2 separate regions of the Homo sapiens genome follow, and region 1 is linked to region 2. Evidence: fine-mapped expression QTL. A gene starts in region 2. The other region holds a variant in brackets. All regions are shown on one strand. Distances are from middle to middle.

What was found. PIP is the estimated chance that this variant, and not a neighbour inherited with it, causes the effect.
Region 1: its variant is fine-mapped to the expression of PMVK in whole blood (INTERVAL, PIP 0.97).

What each region holds. Positions count from the first base shown.
Region 1 is chr1:154,716,875-154,728,138 of GRCh38, forward strand. It overlaps KCNN3 (potassium calcium-activated channel subfamily N member 3), which reads right to left. Exons shown (of 8, transcript NM_002249.6): 5 at 9,042-9,152. LOC124904429 (a long non-coding RNA gene) reads left to right here and starts at 9,837. Exons shown (of 2, transcript XR_007066638.1): 1 at 9,837-9,964; 2 at 10,218-10,356. The variant A/G (reference allele first, on the strand shown) is at 4,163.
Region 2 is chr1:154,932,722-154,941,666 of GRCh38, forward strand. PMVK (phosphomevalonate kinase) reads right to left here and starts at 3,998. Exons shown (of 5, transcript NM_006556.4): 1 at 3,870-3,998. The coding sequence starts at 3,964. RefSeq lists a silencer at 3,448-3,547 and enhancers at 3,504-4,446, 4,268-4,467, 4,447-5,388.

The DNA of each region.
Region 1 (11,264 bases), 210 kb before region 2:
TGCAGAGCACACATTTAATACTACTGCCCTCCTCTTGCAGGGAGAGGAGGCAATTGGATGTGTCATTTCTTCAGTTTCCCTACGCACTTAGCCTCTTAGGAAAGCCTCAAGGAAACTGGAAAGTCTGCAGGTGAATCCCTGCTCTGTCAATTATTAAGCAGTTTAGGAGCAAATGCTTCATTATCTGTAAGATGGGAAAAATAAAGAGGGCTGCTATGAGGCAGTGATGATGGTGCTGGGGGCAACACTTAACATCTACCAGGTGCAGCCACAGGTCTGAGTACTTCATATGTCTAAGCTCCTTTAATCCTCACCACAACCCCATCAGGGAGGTGCTAACATTATCCACATTTTACAGATGAAGAAACCAAGACACAGACCAAGACTAGACAATTATTAATGGCAAACTGAGTCAGTGTGGGTGTGAATGCTACATAAAATGTAAAGTACCATACAGATATTAGTTAATATTATCTAGCTCAAACCCCTCATTGAACATACGAGGAAACCACTTCAGAGATGGGATGTGAGAGCCAGAATCACACAGCTAGCTAATGGCAAAGTCAAAACAAGAGCCACGTCCAGGAAGAGCAGAAGGTTTTCATGTGGACTGAAGGAAAGACAAACAAAATCATTTCCTGTTTTCCAGGATCAAGGAACTGGAAAGAGCACTGGATTTTTTTTTTTTTTAAATCATCATGGCCCTCACTTAGCAATGTGACAGAACACGGAGTCCAGGTCCTGCACTTAACGTCAGCCCAAATGTAAGATACTGAAGTCACAGCACGGCCCGGGTAGCTGAGAGAGGCAGTCACATCATCTTTATGAGTTTGGAGGGAGGCCTCCGTGCATTCGGGAAAGTGATGTTAACTGCCAGCCCTTGCACTGACTCTGAAATTAATTACCAGCAAACAGCCTGGCACAAAGCTAAGTAGATCAATATCTGCGAGAGAAAAAGAAATAGGCTTTTAACTGCACTGTGCTTTCCCAGGTGGACAGTAAATGCTATTGTGGCCAGGGTCTCCCTCCAGTTCACCTGGCTGATTGATCTAAGCATTGTTGGGGTCGGGAGCACATGAGGTCATGTGCCCTTCCTCAGATTTGCCGAGCCTCCAAAGGGCTCCATGCACCCTTCCTTGAGGGAGGCTTGGGTACCACCTGACCTCTCCTGGTGGGCAGAGGCACCAGGGCCAAAAGATGCTCTCAGGGTGCAGCAGTGCGAGAGGGCAGGGCTTAAGATGAAAGCAGCAAGCCAGAAAGAGTGGCTCAAGGTTGGCCACAATCGGATGGGTTTGGGGATGGTTAGGAGAGGACCCTTTGTGAATGGAAGTCCAGCTGTCCTGCCTCCAAAACCCATAAACAAATTGGCTGATTGTTTTCTGCAAGCCCAAAAACTCTCTACCAAAAAATTGCTTTCACTCTGATTGGGGCCAGACAATGGGCTCTATGATCTACTTTAGGAAAGGCTCTAAGATTAATGGGCCTGGGCAAGAAAGTGGTCCAATGAAGACCTTGCAAATTATGGTGACAGCTAACATATACTGAGTGCTTACTACGTGCCAGGCTTTGTGCTAAGCACATATGTCTGCACTGGTTCATTAACCCTCAGAAAAACTTGATAAATAGACGTGATCATCAGCTCCACCTTGGACCCACTGCTGAACTCTCTGAGACTCTCTTTGTTCATACATTTGAGGAACAATTAATGAGCACCTATGATGGGCCAGACATTGTTGTAGCAAGTGACGGTACCACAGTGAACAAATCAATAACATTGCTGCGCTTACGGAACTTACAATCCTGCGGAGAAGACGGTATGCAGTTTGTATGATAGCATCAGGTAACAAGCGCTTAAAAAACCACAACAACAAAGCAGGGTCCAGGGCTAGAGAGTGATGCAAGTACTACCTGCATCTGTGAAATGGGATTACTGTGTTGATTAAATGAGAATATACTTAAAACATTAGCACAGATCCTGGCCATATGCCTCAATACATGGTACCTTTGTTAATATTCTCTCCTTCCAATAAATGTCAGCTTCCTTCCCTCTAACTTCCCCAGCCAGCAAGAAAACATACAACAGAACACACACCTCTTCCTTGAGCTCTTGGCCGCAGCATCCCATGTCAATGACTTGCTCTGGCCACCTCTCTGCCCAGGTAACCTGCTACTTGCTATTACAGAGGGGCTGTCGGTTGCGGCAAGAATGCTTGGGGCAGGAGTACAAGGGGGATGAAAGGAGCACCTTTCTTGGGCACCCTAAGCCTCCAGCAGCCCCAGGAGCCCTGGGAAATTCCAGGGGTCCCATTAGCAGAGCCCCCCAGAGAAGAAATCACTAGCATGCCCATTATGCTGCCAGGAACCCTTGCCAGGGAAGTATTCTACTTGGAGGTTGGAGACGGGGAAAGGGAGGCCTGGCCGGTGGGTGTGATTTAAATACACACATCTTGGACAATTTCTTCAGTGTGTGAACATCACAGAGTGTACTTAAACAAACCTAGATGGGACAGCCTACTACACACCTAGGCTGTATGGTATAGCCTATCGCTCCTAGGCTACAAGCCTGTATGGCACATTCCTGTACTGTAGGCCACTGTAACACAAATCACTAGGGGAGAGGAATTTTTCAGCTCTGTTATAGCCTTCTGAGACCACCTTGGTATATGTGCACCATCATTGACTGAAACTTGTTATGCAGTGCATGACTGTAACTTCAAGGAGTTACACAGGTTGAAATTAGGCTGAGTGATGATCAGATCACTATCGGAGAACCTGCAAGCCAGCCCTTGACTGAAGGTGTCCATTACACACAGGACTAGAGAAGGGGGCTGGTTCCTCTTTCCCATTTGCCAAGCCCACTCTCCCCTCATCACCACCCTGCAGACTTGCTCTGGCTTCCCCGGCTGCCCTCTCTTTCATCACCCTGCTTGCACCTCCTCTTTTTCCTCCCCCTGTTCTATTCCACACTCCCTTTACAGGCTTCTCTGCCTGCCTCACCCAGAGGCCCTCACTGACCACTTAGAACTGGGAGCTCCACCTCTCTGGCTGGCAGGAAATTGGGTAGAGAGAGAGGAGGTGTATTTCCGTTGTTCAGAGTTGGAGCTTGAGGTTCTCCCTGTAGCAATATGGTAATGGGTGGTGGATAATTCTATAATGCTATTTATGTGATACTCAGTTAGGGTGGAGTTAAGCTGGCTTTTCTTTTCAGCAGGTCTGGGACCCTAACCCCATGCTGAGTTCCAAGGAACTGACCGCCCTAAAGCTGCCTGCCTGATGGTCTGAGAGCAAAGTGGATCTTGCATAGGCCGGGGGCCCACCCTCGCCCCTTTCTGGGCCTTCGTCTTCTCATGTGGGTTGGAGTGGCTCTTCCCTAAGGGTCCTTCCAGCTTAAACGCACATTGTTTCTGTGACTATTGCTAAAGAAAACCTGCACCCAATCTGTCTGGGACAGAACCTTGTGCGTGATGTAATTTATAATCCTCTTCTGGGGAGAATTAGCATTCCTGATAACTGCCCTATTGATTATCTGATCCATTGTAAAGACTTGAAGACTTGTTCTGGAAATCCACTGTTGAGCCCAACCAGCTGTCCATTAGCAGTCTTTAGCTAAACCTTCTATAATCTGGCATAACAATGACTACCATTGTTTTTCCTACGAAATACCACTACTAAGAGTAATCTTTGAATTAGCCTGCTGAAGAAAATTTTCTTCTAGCAAGATTATGATCAAACTTTGGCATATGCTTGTAATTAAAGAAAAGTTTTCTTCAGTGTCATTCAGGAGATAGTAGGTGGGGAAACTACTTAAAGGTTTTTGAGCAGGAAGTAATTTGTTCAGAGCTAAGCCTGAGAGTCTAAGGAGATCCATGGGGAAGCAGAGTGCAGGATGACTGGGGTAAGGGACGCCGAAGTGAGGAGAGCAGGTAGCAGGCTGCTGTGATAGTGCGAGACAGAAGATGGCGGCTTCAAGAGTGGCGGGGCCGAGGCCCTGGAGAGGCGGGCATGCGTGAACAGCCACGGCAAGGTGAAATCAGACACAGAAAGTGCTCAGACCCTCGTGGGGTCCAGGGTCCAGAGGAGTCAGAAATGGGGCTAAGTCTTTAGGCCTGGCGTCTGGAAGAACACGATGTCAGGAGCACACCAGGGAAGTTAGGAGAAGGAA[A/G]TAGTTTAGGGAAGTTGTGGGTTTAATTTTGGTCTTATTCATTGAATTCATGGGGAAGTGTACTTGGGTGAGCTACTTGGGGCAAGAAACCCCTGCAGCAAGAAGGAGATAGGATCCTTAGCACACTGTGCTGTCTGAAGGTTCTGCTCACTGTGGCTTGATGTGGAGAGTAGGTACCGCAAAGAAAATATCTCCGGTCCATGGTGCCTCCCAAGCCAAGTGTGTCCATAGCAGCCCACTCTGCCTTTTTTTTCTTTTTCTTTCCTTTTTTTTTTTTTTTTGAGATGGAGTCTCACTCTGTCACCCAGGCTGGAGTGCAGTGGCACGATCTCAGCTCACTGTAACCTCCGCCTCCTGGGTTCAAGCAATTCTCCTGCCTCAGCCTCCCGAGAAGCTGGGATTACAGGCACCCACCACCATGCCCGGCTAATTTTTTGTATTTTTAGTAGAGACGGGGTTTCACCATGTTCGCCAGGCTAGTCTTGAACTCCTGACCTCAAGTGATCCGCCCACGTCGGCCTCGCAAAGTGCTGGGATTACAGGCGTGAGCCACCGCACCCGGCCCACTCTACCTCTTATAAGAAGAAGTGCTCTCTGAGGGCAGTCAGCCACCAGAGGTTAGGGATGGAGGTGAGGACCACCTCTTACCCATCTTGGTGCCCCCAGAGTACAGAGTGTGGCACCCAGGGAGTGGCCTCTGTGATGGATCTGTTTAGCTACATAAAACAGAAAGATGGGGACATGAAAACACTAAGTGGCAGAAAAGATGGGGCTCTAGTATCTTTCTTCCAGTCCCTCTGTGAATCATGTACTTAAATATTATCTAGTAGCCCAGAGATTAGCAATAAGTTATAATTACAGAATAACAATGGCAGTGACACTGCGAAGTCAGTGTGGGAAGATCTGATTGAATTAAATACAGAAATGACGTTGCCACCAGAGTTGATAAGTCATACGAGGAAAGAAGATAAGCATGGGACTCAAGAAAAGCAGAAATTGAGTTCTTACCCAGTGCTATCAGACCCTCTTCCCTCCCTACAAACAAATAAATAAAAATAGTGCTGGCTCTCATGGCAAAGGCTAGGCTGCAGTCTTTAGAGCAAGACAGGATGAATAAATACTAGAACAATTTGAGTATTTTCTATGATTAATAGCTACAATTCCTTTTTTCGTTTTGCGTAGGTCTTTGAAGCATCAAGGTTGCATATACCGGTAAGAGACTGCTTTTATCTGTCAAATCTACTAATTGCCCACTCCGAAGAGGTTGCAATTATGCCACAGTCAACTCCTTCATGTTGGATCTTTCTCTGAGAATTCACTGAGATGTTATGAATAGACTGAGCTTAGCATTTTTTTTTTTTTTTTTTTTGAGATGGAGTCTCGCTCAGTTGCCCAGGCTGGAGTGCAGTGGCACGATCTCGGCTCACTGCAACTTTCGCCTCCCAGGTTGAAGCGATTCTCCTGCCTCAGTCTCCCGAGTACCTGGGGCTACAGGCACGTGCCACTACGCCCGGCTAATTTTTTTGGATTTTTTTTTAGTAGAGACAGCGTTTCACTGTGTTAGCCAGGAAGGTCTCAATCTCCTGACCTCCTGAGCCATCTGCCTCGGCCTCCCAGAGTGCTGGCATTACAGGCATGAGCCACCGCGCCCGGCCAAGAGCTTCTAAGGATCATGTCTGAGAGTGAGTATTTCTTTTTTTTTTTTTCTTTTTTTTGACAGAGTCTTGCTCTGTTGCCCAGGCTGGAGTGCAGTGGTGGGATCTCGGCTCACTGTAAACTCTGCCTCCCAGATTCAAGCGATTCTCCTGCCTCAGCCTCCTGAGTAGCTGGGATTACAGGTGTGTGCCACCACGCCCCACTAATTTTTGTATTTTTAGTAGAGTCAGGGTTTCACCATGTTGGTCAGGCTAGTCTCGAACTCCTGACCTCATGATCCACCCACCTCGGCCTCCCAAAGTGATGGGATTACAGGCGTGAGCCACCGCACCCGGCTGCTTAGCATCTTCTTGACCAATGAGCCACTCCAGCTTGATACAATGGACCATTTCAAGAGGACAGAAGGCAGGCCAGGCATCCCCAGGGGAAGAGAGGTGGGGTTCTCTTGTGAGCAGGTCAAAGTCAGCTCAAACCAGAGCAGGCCAAGGATGCACACATCCAGTTTCATTTCAATTAAGGTTATGTAAAAGAACCTTCAGAAGTTCTAGTCCTGCCAGCTTTGAAAACCTTCTCTCTGTAAGAACCATCCCTTCTGTGTTGTTTATTTCCTTGAGAAAAGATATTAGATATTAAAGAGACATTTCAACAGATTTAAGTGTTCTCAGAAAAGTGAGATGTTATTCGATTAAAAAGCTACCTTAGATTCATGGGTGAGCAATAAATATTTGTTGATTTGATTTTCAGTCCTACTTTTCAAGAAGTGGAATTGAGGAGGATGTTAGGGAATCATTTTTGAAAGATTAAAATTAGCAACCACAGTCTCATCTTCTACAATTATATTGCAGAAAAATTGTTTATTTTCCTGGCATACAAAGGAGCTGGCTTTCCTCAGCTTTATTTTCCTCTAGCGTCTGATCTACTTGGTGAAAAATGGAGAGGACAAAGGAATAACACCAAATACAAAGAATATTCTTGGCTTAAAAAAGAAAACCAGAATAAACAGAGAGACTGCTAATGTCTCTACTCTTGGTAAACAGCTTATGAGAAGGCTTTGGAGGCAAAACATCTCCCTGCCCTCACTCCGGCACGTAGTTTCAATCCAGTGAAACCTCAGTAAATTGCTTCAGGAAAATAGATGCAAGTGGATTTGCATTTAGGTGTTTCAATAACTTGAATAATTTCCTCAATACTGAGCATGACTTTTGCACCCATTATTAGAGGGGGCTGAAAGAGAGTGGCCAAGTGGCAGGGTTCCCGGCAGGCCTTACTGTGATAACAGCCTTCAATCACTGCCATCGTGATGTGACAAATCATGGCTTTTTTTGGTGCAGCTGATAGCTCAGGGCCATGATGTATCAAGTACAAACACTTGAATGTCAACAACATAAGAATATTTGCCCGTACCAGTTCCTTTTAATGTCTGTTAAGGCTCTTTACAGAATCCAATAAATGTAATCAAAGACCAAACAATCAAACACCATAAATAATTCTGCTGAGAAACTGGAGAGGCCTTGGCCGCTGCACACTCTCCCACTGCCTTCCCCAAGAGCTCGCTCGCAGCTCCCTCTGTCATTCTCTCTCTCTCTCTTTTTGTTCTTCCTTCCTGCCGTTGTCTCTATTTCTAACACATTTTTGCTGCTGTGCAACATTAATCACTGAATATTTTCTCTAGCTTTCAAAAACCCAAATCAAAATTTGGTTGCTCATGGGTCCCTTAACCTACTTCAGTCCTAAATGAAAAAGACTATGGAGGCCGAGACACGGGCACAGGGTTTTAATTCTGTCTCGTCTCAGAAAGAGGACAGTCTTGCAGGAAATCATCTTACTGACCTTCCTTCAGGCTGTAGTTCTAAAGAATTTTCCATAAAAGCTGTCCTTGAATAAACAGCTCCTGCCTTGCCCATTTGGCCTGCTGTTATTCTGGAAGGCTTGTATCTGTCTATTCTAAATGGGTCTTTTCATCTCAGACAATTCAGTGGGGTGTCCAACTTTCAGCAGCTAAATGGTCTACCCATTCCTGCATATTTTCAGATTTTCATCTTCCATAACCACTTCCATAATGGTTCAAGTGAGAAACATTACCCGGAAAACCCAAAAGGGAAAAATTGGATGATGATGTTTTGATGAACAATTTTATTTAGGGATGTGGGCTCTACTAGAATGATTCTTTTTTTTTTTTTTTGAGATGGAGTCTTGCTCTGTCGCCCAGGCTGGAGTGCAGTGGCGCGATCTCGGTTCACTGCAACCTCCGCTTCCTGGGTTCAAGTGATTCTCCTGCCTCAGCCTCCTGAGTAGCTGGGATTACAGGTGACTGCCACCACACCCAGCTAATTTTTGTATTTTTAGTAGAGACGGGGTTTCACATGTTGGCCAGGATGGTCTCGATCTCTTGACCTCATGCTCCGCCCGCCTCGGCCTCCCAAAGTGCTGGGATTACAGGCGTGAGCCGCCGCTCCCAGCATAGAATGATTCTTTAAATGATTTTTTTTAAAGGATTAGACTTAGGTACATTTTCAATATACTTTTATAGTTTTAGGTATATTTTCAATATAGTTTTGCCCTTCCTAATGAGAATCCTGAAAATATTTGAGCATAAACAAAAAACATTGCCTCATACCGTGATTTATTTGGTATCATCAGGCAAAGGGGCAGGTTATACCATTGTAGGCTATTAATTAAATTACCAGGAAAATTATTTGGCTGCCTGAACCATGCACAGTGATCGAACAGAAGACAGGAACCCGGCGTATGAAGGTGCTGTTTCCATTTTGTGTCTGGGGTTCCCTCAAACACACCCTTTAAAAGCCTGGTGCAAACCCATACGACATGACCATTTGCTTCCTTCCTTCCTTCTTTTTTTTTTTTTTTTGAGATGGAATCTCTCTCTGTCACCCAGGCTGGAGTGCAGTAGTGCGATCTCGGCTCACTGCAACCTCCGCCTCCCAGGTTCAAGCAATTCTCTTGCCTCAGCCTCCTGAGTAGCTGGGACTACAGGTGTGTGCCACCATGCCCAGCTAATTTTCTGTATTTTTAGTAGAGATGGGGTTTCAACGTATTAGCCAGGATGGTCTTGATCTCCTGACCTTGTGATCGACCCTCCTCAGCCTCCTAAAGTGTTGGGATTACAGGCGTGAGCCACTGCACCCGTTGGACCATTTGCTTTCTGATTGGCTTCCACTGTGGCCTTAAGTCCCCCATAAGACATGGCTGTGTGGCATCTTACCCGCTTGGTGAGCTGAGTGTCCATCATGAAGTTATGAACGTGCTTCTCCGCTTTGGTGAGTTCCAGCTTTCGGGCCACCACGGCCACCACAAGGGCAGTGCAGCCTGCACCCTGCGGGGGGACATCAAGAGGACCAGAGGGGAAAGAACATATCATTAAGAGGCAAGATGAGAGACTCAACACGCCTGGCGGCCACGGGGGTAATTTCCTGGGAGTGGAGTGGGAACTTGAGCTCTCTGGCTGGTCACGACCAAGCCACAAAAATCTGTTGAAATCTGTCAGGACTCTGATGTCCTGACCCACAGAGGGGTCTGCAGTGCCTCTTGGGTTGTGCTCTGCAGCTGACCTCTGGGAGGCTGAGCTAGCCAGTTTCAATGGAGAAGGATGCTGGGTGGCGCCGAGGCTTTGGGGGGTTTAACCAACAACTAAGCACCTGGTCAGCTGCCAAGCTGTGCAGCGGAAGACAGAGGGGCCAGCACACACGGGCCCTCTCTCCCTCAGGCAGGTCTCCATCCCACTGCCAGCTCTAGACCAGCAGGCCTGGGAGGAAAGAAGGTAGGCCATCAGCTGGGGTGCAGATGGAACACCTGCCAGTGGCTGAGAGTGTTCCTGAAAATAATCGAATGAAGAGGCAATACCTTTCCCCAGGGCTTGTTTCACAGAGGGCACCCAGGTTGGCACGAACACGTGCACTCAGTGACTGTGCCTGCTCTACACTTGGGCTTTTTCACCTCAAGGTTTACGCTATGACTCAGCACAAGGAATCGGTTCCTTCCTGCCTTCACCAGGAGGCTCATGAATTCACCGTCATGCAGAGATTTTAAAGACAACACCACTTCTGCTGGATCAAAACCGGGATTTTAAGTGAGCCCGCAGCAGACCCTTGGGATTTTCTGGAACAGCGATCCTAGTCTGCTCGGTAGGTCCGTGCCAGGGGAGCCCGGGGGAGGGTGGGCAAGGAAGCAGGCTCTGCTGAGCCCCCAGAATGGTGGGACTCACTTTCTCTCTCCTAATCCTCTGGGTGCATACTTGACTGTCTGGGAAATAAGCAGGGAATTCCCTGCACATTCCAACATTCTCCCAATGCATTTTAAAATCCTCTTCGCTAGGCTTCTTGGTTGGCTTGTGAGCATAGGGGGAATTCAGAGACTCACTACTCCCCTGGCTCTTCGGCAGGCAGCGGGAGTCAGCTCCATCCTTCTGCAAGCGGACTCCCGTCAGAGACCATCGCCCTCTGCCTGCATGCTGTGCCCTGCGCCGCCCTGACCACCACTCATGGAAAGAGATGATGAACTTATTAAAGCCAACAACCGAATCCTGTATGTCAAACAGTAATTCTAGTTGCCACAGAACCCAGTCTAGCAGTTGAGGTCCCAGAATGGAAGGAATCTGTCAGTAACATTTTTGGCTCATCAGGTCTTACAAAATGTGTGAGAAGCAGAAAAGAATGTTTTTCAAAGGTACTATAATCTATAACCGACTTGGAAGGAATGCATATGGGTGGATCCATTCCCTACTCTCTCTTTTAGAAGCTATTTCTCTCTTTATCCCACAGGCTGACAAAGGCTAGCCTGTGTGAAGTTTCAATGTGGTTGAAGTTCACAATGCTTTCTCCTCGTTTCCCACAAGGGTCCCCATTAAAACAATCTAGTGTTTCTCAGTACATTTGTTGGCCTTGTCACAAAGTGAAAAGAACCAAGTCTGTGTGAACTTTCCTTTTCTGACCTCATTTTCCTCTTTTGTTCGAGGACGGCTGTGTTTTTTCAGCTTCTGTGACTTACAGGAGACTCTGTGCCCAATTTTCAAAGGATCTGGGCAGTTGCACAGCCTGGTCTGTAGCTGTAATCAATTTAGCCATGCCTCCAAAAGCAAAAAATAGCTTAAAAGAAGCCATCCTAGAGGGAAGATGTGTGCTCCCTTCCCCTCGACCGGACGGAGTATCATCCCTCTCCTTTATATGGAGTTCCAAAAGTACTTTGGGCTGAAAGCCCAAAAAGAGGGCTATATCATAGCGTTAAAAATGGAACATCAGATGGAGAGGGTTCTCCCCAGGTTCCATTCTCCCTCCTCTCGCTAGGCCCAGGCAAAACTCTACTTAAATCATCCCTGAAAGCTGGGGTCCAATAGGCCTGAAGAGGGAGCTTCCCTGTTCCATGCTATTTTGGGAATGTAATCACAACAATCAATCATCCACCATTCCAAATTTCCAGGGTCTAGATGGGG
Region 2 (8,945 bases):
AGGTTATTGCCCAGACCCTAAACTAATTCTCTCATAGCCAGAGGTATCTGTCTCCACTGACTTGGTCACCATAACATATATCATTTATTAATTCACTGGTTGGGCATGGTGGCTCACACCTGTAATCCCAATACTTTGGGAGGCCAAGGCAGGAGGAGTGCTTGAGGCCAGGAGTTCAAGACCAGCCTGGGCAACACAATAAGACCCAGAGATACCATCTCCACCAAAAAATTTAAAAATTAGCTGAGCATGGCAGCATGTGCCTGTACTCCCAGCTACTCCAGAGGCTGAGGTGGGAGCATTCCTGAGCCCAGGAGTTCCAGGCTACAGTGAGCCATGATTGTACCACTGTATGCCAGCCTGGGAGACAGAGTGAGACCCTGTCTCATAAAAATGAAATAAGAAAAGCAAATTTAAAAAACTGAAACAAAAGCCAGGTGTGGTGGCTCACGCCTGTAATCCCAGTACTTTGGAAGGCTGAGGCAGCAGATCACCTGAGGTCAGGAGTTTGAGACCAGCCTGACCAACACGGTGAAACCCTGTCTCTACTAAAAGCATAAAATTAGCCGGACATGATGGCGCATGCCTGTAATCCCAGCTACTCGGGAGGCTGAGGCAGGAGAATCACCTGAACCCAGGAGGTGGAAGTTGCAGTGAGCCGAGATCGCCCCATTGCACTCCAGCCTGGGCAACAAGAGTGAAAATCCATCTCAAAAATGAAAATAAAAATAAAAATAACTCATTCGTTATTTAATTTACTTAACCAACCTTTTTTTTTTTTTTTTTTTTTGAGACGGAGTCTTGCTCCACCACCCAGGCTGGAGTGCAATGGCGCGATCTCGGCTCACTGCAATCTCCGCCTCCCAGGTTTGAGCGATTCTCCTGCCTCGGCCTCCCAAGTAGCTGGGATTACAGGCGCCCGCCACTACACCCGGCTAATTTTTGTATTTTTAGTACAGACGGGGTTTTGCCATGTTGGCCAGGCTGGTCTCAAACTCCTGATCTCGTGATCCGCCCGCCTCAGCCTCGCAAAGTGCTGGGATTACAGACGTGAGCCACCGCACACGGCCCTTCTTTTTTTCTCTTTTTTGAGACAGAGTCTCACTCTGTCGTCCAGGCTGGAGTACAGTGGCACCATCTCGTCTCACCACAACCTCTGCCTCCTGGCTTAACCAACCATTTATTGGGTACCATATTTGGATCTAGGTGATACAAATGTGAATGATACATGCTTCCTGTCCTAGCCTTGAGATGCTCACAATACACTTAACGCACAGGAAGATAAGTGCTGTTTTTGAGACTGAGTCTCACTCTGTAGCCCAGGCTGGAATGCAGTGGTGCAATCTCAGGTCACTGCAACCTGCACCTCCTGGGTTTAAGCTATTCTCCTGCCTCAGCCTCCCAAGTAACTGGGACTACAGGCCGGCGCCACCACGTCCCACTAATTTTTGTATTTTTAGTAGAGAAGGGTTTTACCATGTTGGTCAGGCTGGTCTCGAACTCCTGAGCTCAAGTGATCCACCCTTCTCGGCCTCTCAAAGTGCTAGGATTACAGGCGTGAGCCACTGCGCCCAACGATAAGTGTTCTTTGTTTTGTTTTGGTTTGGTTTTTTAAGAGTCAGGGTCTTGCTGTCACCCAGGCTAGAGTGCAGTGGTATGATCACAGCTCACTACAATCTTGAACTCCTGGGCTCAGGCAATCCTCGCACCTCAGCCTCCTGAGTATCTGGGATTACTGGCATGCACCACCATACCCAGCTAATTTTTTTTATCTTTTGTAGAGAGGGGGTCTCACTATGTTGCCCTGGCTGTAAGTGTTCTTATTTTCATGTTTCAGATGAGGAAGCTGAGGTTGTGAAAGGAGGATTGACTCCCCCAAAGCAACACTGCAAGTAGTGAAGCCAAGATTGGTAAAATAAATATAGCCAACATTTAGTTCCTGCACCTCTGCTAGGTGCCAATAATTATTCTAAGCCCTTCACACACATTATCTCATTTAATCCCCACAACCACCCTATTATCATCCCCATTTTACAGATGACAAAACTGAGACGCAGGCCAGGTGCGGTGGTGGTTCACGTCTGTAATCCCAGCACTCTGGGAGGCCGAGGCAGGCAGATCACCTGAGGTCAGGAGTTCCAGACCAGCCTGGCCAACATGGTGAAACCTGTCTCTACTAAAAATACAAAAGTTAGCTGGGCATGGTGGCACACACCTGTAATCCCAGCTACTCGGGAGGCTGAGACAGGAAAATCGCTTGAACCCAGGAGACAGAGGTTGCGGTGAGCCGCAACCTGGGTGCGCTCCAGCCTGGGTGACAGAGCAAGACTCCGTCTCAAAAAAAAAAAAAAAAAAAAAAAAAAAACATGAGGCACAGAGTGAATGACAGATGTGTACAAGATCACACACTAATCAACAGTGAGCCAGGGTTTGCATCCCAGCAGTCTAATTCCAGAGCCTGTGCTTCGGACCACTATTTGACGTCAGGGTTTGGAGGTGAGGAGAAATGCAACTTAGGAAAAGGTGGTGAGATACTTAGTGATGAAAAATTCAGGTGGTGACCTCTGCTCTGGGCTCTCCCACACCTTCATAGAACCCCCGTGGTACCCAAAAGCAGCTTCCTGGTACCCCCACCACACTGGCCTTCAAGAGGAGAGGAGCCCCACTTTCTCCCCAACCTCTGCTCTCCTAGCCCAGGTCTCAGCAAAATGCTCCTGCACAGAAGATCTTGCTTTGACAGAAAACACTGTGCAAAAGGTATTATTATTTGGGGAGGCAGCCAGATAAAACAGAAAGAAACCAGTCCTTGGCGCAAGATAAAGTTGAATTTGTTTGGGTTTTTTTTCTTTTTGTTTCAATTATATATTAATTGCTGAGATGCCCATCATGAACCACAAAGCTGAATTTGAATCCTGGATTTGCCACTTACTTTGTGACCAGCAAGGGTTTTTTGTTGTTAACTTCGTATGTTATTTTATTTTATTTTACTTCGAGACAGGGTCTCAGGCTCTGCTGCAAGGACTGGAGGACAGTAGCATGATTACAATTCACTGTAGCCCCCAGGTTCAAGCGATCCTCCCACCTCAGCCTCCTGAGTAGCTTGGACTAGAGGTGCTCGCCATCGCACTAGGCTAACTTTTCCATTTTTTTGTAGAGACTAGGGTCTTACTGTGTTGCCCAGGCTGGTCTCCACTACTGGGCTCTCAAGCCATCCTCGCACCTCTGTCTCCCAAAGTGCTGGGGTGACAGACATGACCACCACACCCGGCCTGTTTAACTTTTTAAGAGCCTCAGTTTCTTCACCTGTGAAATGGAGATGCTAATAATGGCACACAGTACCTAACAAAGAGGTGAAGAGGGTTTTTTGTTTTGTTTTTTTAAGACAGGGTCTCGCTCTGTCGCCCAGGCTGGAGTGCAGTGGCCAATCTCGCCTCACTGCAACCTCCGCCTCCCGGGCTCAAGCGATTCTTCTACCTCAGGCTCCTGAATAGCTGGGACCACAGGCACGCGTCACCACGCCCAGCTACTTTTTGGATTTTTCGTAGAGGCGGGGTCTCGCCATGTTGCCCAGGCTGGTATCCAACGCCTGGTATATAGAAAGTGCCTTCGTAGGAACCATTATTAATGCTTCTCAGAGAGACCTGCAGCTGAAGGTCTTTGGAGAGGTGGTCACCTGCTTCTTTGAGGCTCGCCTGTGTAGACTACTGTTTTATGTAATGGTGGCATTCCACCTTCCCCAGCCCAGTGCTCCTCCTGCCTTGCAAACGGACGACCCGTACTCCAAAGCTCACTCCGTGACACCCAAAAGCACTCCTCGTGTCACGTGATGCGGAGAGCTCCCCCTTCCACCTTTCCCGCCTCACGGACACCTGCTCTGCAGCGCCTCGGTCACGAAGTCCTTCCCGGATTTCCTCTTGCCGCTGAACAGCAGTACCAGCCGCGGGGCGCCTCCCAGCGGGGCCATGGGGCCGCCACGCCTCGCGATGCCTGAAGCTGACACTTCTCCCTACCCCTAAAATCGGGACACCGCGCGGAATGGACGCGGCCACTAAGCGGAGCGGCAACAAGGAACAATCGCGCCCCTCCTCGCCGTAGCTGCGAACAGGGCTGACCGCCCGCGACCGTGCCCTCAGCTCATGTCCAAACAGATATGGGGAGAAAAGGGTGAGACACGCGGAGAGAAAGGCGGTTCCTTCACAGAGCAGCCTCCCCTCGTGAAGCTCCCCCACCCGAACTCACTTAGAACAGTCCAGCCCCGCCCAGAACCTTCGCTCACAGCCTGGCCTGCTTAACTGACACCCGGGGAGGAACCGGACGCGACTACCTTCCTCCGAGGGGGGTGACGTCTGAAATTTCCTGAGGTGAACCCCATGTTCCCTTCCGCGCAGCCCTAAAACTTTAGGAAAAAAAATCTCTGGAGTGAGATCACGTTGGAGACGTTTTGGAAACTGCCCTTTTGCCTGTGCGTTATAGTACATGTGCCACAGCAAATCTGCGCGCGCCCCAGAGTGGGAATGGGTCTTCCTGGGGGCGTAAGGCAGCCCTGACGCGAGCGGCGTGTCTGGCCACGTCATGTCGGGGGAGGAGCAGAATCGCGCACACGATATTTCATTGTCAAGCAGATTTTATAACCCGAGACGTCACTAAGATGTGGCCCTTTAAGCCCGGCGAGAAACCTTTGATTGCTTTTCTAGCCGCAGCCTCCGGCCCAAAGGTTTTCGGAAGCAAACGGCGTGGGTGACATCAATAGTAAGGGAGCGTTGAATCCCTAGATGAGATTGCCTGGTTTCATCCGAAGTCTGGCTCCCAGCCAGAAGTTTGAGAGGCAGGATAAGAATAATCTGTCCTTTCCCTGCATCCCCGGTTCTGCCTCTTCCCGCAGTAGGTGACGGGTTGCCCCAGCTGAGTACGTCGAGTTGTTTTTGGCTATGACTTGCCGTCCTGCATTTTTCTGAGCATGTCAGAACAGAGCCTGCAACTCATTACTGCCTCCACTAGAGAAAAAGTGTAGTGTGGAGACTTAGGGAGAAACCATTAATTTCCTGAATGTTGAAAAGAGGCACAGGAGAGTGGTCAGATGCAAAAAGAACAGACTTAAGGAGGTGGTTTTTTGTTTTTTGGGGTTTTTTTTGTTTTTTTTCAGCAACCCAGAAAACACTGCACTCATCAACGCCCTAGAAGGCAGCACAGAGTGGATTTTCAGTCCCAGCTTGGACACTTAGCAAGTCACTCTGAGTTTACCACTGATAAGGCCCACTTCCCAGGGTTATAATAAGAAAGGAATGAAGAAAATATATGACAAGGTACAATAAAATACTTTGTAAGTTCTCAAGTATCATCCAGATGTAAGGGGTTGTTATTTATTCTTAGCACTTCGTCATTCAACACAGAATCAGATTTTCCAGCTCATCTTCAATAAACATGTATTTGGGCCTCCACGGAAAGTCCACATCTCCTGTTTTACCTGAGTCACATGGAAGGAGTCAGAACTTACTCCCGGAGTCTCTTTCCTCACCTGACCCAATGCACGCCCCTTACCTCCCTCTCTGACTCTGAGATCCAGCTCCCTGAATACCTAGTGAGCGATCAGAAAACTTCCCCCAGGCTCACGCCTGTAATCTCCGCACTTTGGGAGGCCAAGGCGGATCACCTGAGGGCAGGAGTTCGAGACCAGCCTGGCCAGCATGGTGAAACCCCATCTCTACTAAAAATACAAAAATTAGCTGGATAGCTGGACGTGGTGGCGGGCACCTGCAATCCAGCTACTCAGGAGGCTGAGGCATGAGAACACTTGAACCTGGGAGGCAGAGGTTGCAGTGAGCCAAGATTGTACCACTGCGCTCCAGCCTGGACAACAGAAAAAGACTCCGTCTCAAAAAATAAAAAAAAACTTCCCCCATACTAGGCTTCCTAGTATGCCTCAACTGAACTCCACTGTCCCTTACTGGTGTCTCAAGTGGAGGCTTTAGTCTCCCAGCCCTCATCCCTCAGCATCCGCTTTGAGTCTATGGCCTCCCTTCCTCCCCATTTTAATTTCCACACCATTACTCATCCTGCCTCTTGGAAAACTATGGTTCCTCTAAGGCTCATGCCACCTGCCTGCGCTACCCTCCTGCTTTCCTCAGTACTGGCAGCCCAGCAATCCTGGTGGTTCATTTTCATTTTCTTTTGTTTCTTTATGCAGACGGGGTCTTGCTATGTTGGCCAGGCTAGTCTGGAATTCCTGGGCTCAAGCAGTCCTCTCTGGCCTCAGCCTCCAAAAGTGCCGGGATTACCAGTGTAAGCCACTGCACCCAGCCTCATTCTCATTTTCTGAGACTCAGCCACTGGCTCCCAGTCTCCTTTTCTACAGAGTTGCTGTCATCATCCTCGGTGACATCACGGTCATGGCCAGCCCATCCAACACCCCGCTGCTCAATCCCTTGGCCCTGGCTGTTCAAAGCCTTTTCCCCCCTCTCCTCCTCAGAGGCCAGCTCCTATGGACACACCCTGGGCTTTGTCATCACCAGAAGCTGCTCAACCTGCAAACTCACATGCTCATCCACCCAACCCTCCAAGGTCACTTGCTCAAATACTCCCCAAAGTAGCACTTCCCTCCCAAGTCCACTAGCTGGTGGAACTGGTTACATTATATAACATGCTCTGCCTGCCTTCCACAACCCAGGGGAAAAAAGTTAAATGTGGCCCGGTGCAGTGGCTCATGCCTGTAATCCCAGCACTTTGGAAGGCCGAGGCGGGCAGATCACGAGGTCAGGAGATCGAGACCATCCTGGGTAACACGGTGAAACCCCATTTCTACTAAAAATACAAAAAAAAAAAAACAAAACAGCCAAGCGTGGTGGCAGGCACCTGTAGTCCCAGCTACACTCGGGAGGCTGAGGCAGGAGAATGGCGTGAACCCAGGAGGTGGAGCTTGCAGTGAGCGGAGATCAGAGATCACGCCACTGCACTCCAGCCTGAACAACAGAGCGAGACTCCATCTCAAAAAAAAAAAAAAAAAAGAAAGAAAAGTTAATGATCCACCTAGATGACAGCCATGGCTTGTTTCTTTTCTTTTTTTGAGACAGGGTCTCACTCTGTGCCCAGGCTGGAAGTGCAGTGGCGGATCATAAGCTCACTGCAGCCTTGATGTCCTGGGCTCAAGCAATCCTTCCACCTTCAGCCTGCTGAGTAGCTGGGACTACAGGTGTGTGCCACCATGCTGAGTTAAACTTTTTTTTTTTTTTTTAATTTTTAGTAGAGATAAGGTCTTGCTATGTTTCCCAGGCTGGTCTCGAACTCCTGGCCTCAAGCCAACCTCCCATCTCAGCCTCCCAAAGTGCTGGAATTACAGGCATGAGCCACAGCGCCCAGCCAGCCTGTTCCTTTGCTGGCCTCATGCCACTATTTCTGGACTAGTCCTGTCATTCCAGATGAGCAAGCATTGATGGCCAGCCTGTTTGACCCATGGGCAATGGACCTTCCAAAGGGAGCTATCTAGCACTTTCCTCTCCACAGCATGTGGCTTCAGGTGTCTGCCTATCCTGCTCTAGCCAGATGACCTGTCCCTTTGATTTTGAACAGAGTCTCAGTGATGACCTCAATGGATGACCCTCCCCTCTGCTGAATGCCTCCCCTGGGGCTGAGCGAAGGTAAGTGCCCCATGCTGGTGAGAACTCCTGCAAAGGGGCCCTGCTCTGGAGAGGAAGTGGAGGGTGGGGGGAATGGTGAGGATTAGTGGCACCCCTCCCATTTCCTACAGTAGCCATCCCCTCAGACCTGCAGGCTGCCAGTGGCAGAATTTGCCCCCTCTGTGAACCATCTAGCTATAGGCTATAACACCCTTACCTCAGGCCTCACCTTTGCCTAGCCTGAAATACCTTCCCCCATTCTCCCATCTCTGAAATCCTATTATCTTTCAAGATCCAACTCAAAGGCCACCCCTTTCTTCCTCTTCACCCAGTTGGCAGACTGCTCCTGGCACCATTAAGAGAGTACTATTAAAATTCTGCTTTGTATGCAGCTAATCCAATTAGCCTCGGGGCAAGGATTGGGGGGCCCCACAGCATCTAGCACAGTATTGAGACCTGAATGCTAGTTAGCATCTTTTCCCGCCAGCTCCTGCCACATCGGGGAACCAACACCCTTTCCTCCCATATCAGTAGCTCCCAGTGGCTCCCAGTTTCCCCCTTAGAGGTTAAGTACAATAAAAATAACTGCTCTGTTTCAGTGCCCTTTAGCTTGCAAAGCCTTTTCATGTATCTTACATTGACTCATCTCACCCTCGGGACAGCCTCTGAGAGCAGAGTCTGTGGTCTCCACTTCAATGATGAGAAAGCTGAGCCCTTAAGCAAGGAGAGCCCTCTTGCCCAAGGCCCACAGGTGGGCAGCGGTGGAGACCGCCACTCTGGGGTTTCCGACTTCAAATCTCGCTCAGGTCAAAGCTCTGGTTAGAAAAGATCTGGGCTGGGAGCCCCCCTGGCCCAGGAACAGGTGAGCCAGGAACAGGCCCAGCCAGAAGAACAGGTGAGCGGGGAAGGGGTTCACTGTTGTTCTCCATTTGGGAGCGGCAGTCACCTATCCTGGGTGCCAAAGGTTACCAAAGAGATGGGTGGCCACCTTAAGGGAGACCTGGGAGAGGTGGGACAGGGAACTCAGATAAGTGCTTAACAAGGGGCTTCTGTGGCTCAGGCAGCTGAGTTGGGGAGGGGAAGAACCTGTTGTCTGATTTAGGCAACAGCCCTCCACACCCCTACCCTGCAACCTGCACTGTCCCTACCAGACCCCTGCTGTGAGCATGTGAAGGGGCCAGGAACATCTGTGGCCCAGAACCAGGCAGGATGAGGAGACATTCCTGTGTCAGGGTAACCCTGGGAGGTTCCCATGGCAACAGCCAGCCAGTCCAGTGTGTGTCCTTGGGCCCAGCCGGACGAGGCTGGGAGCCACTCTCAAAAGGAGCAATGTGC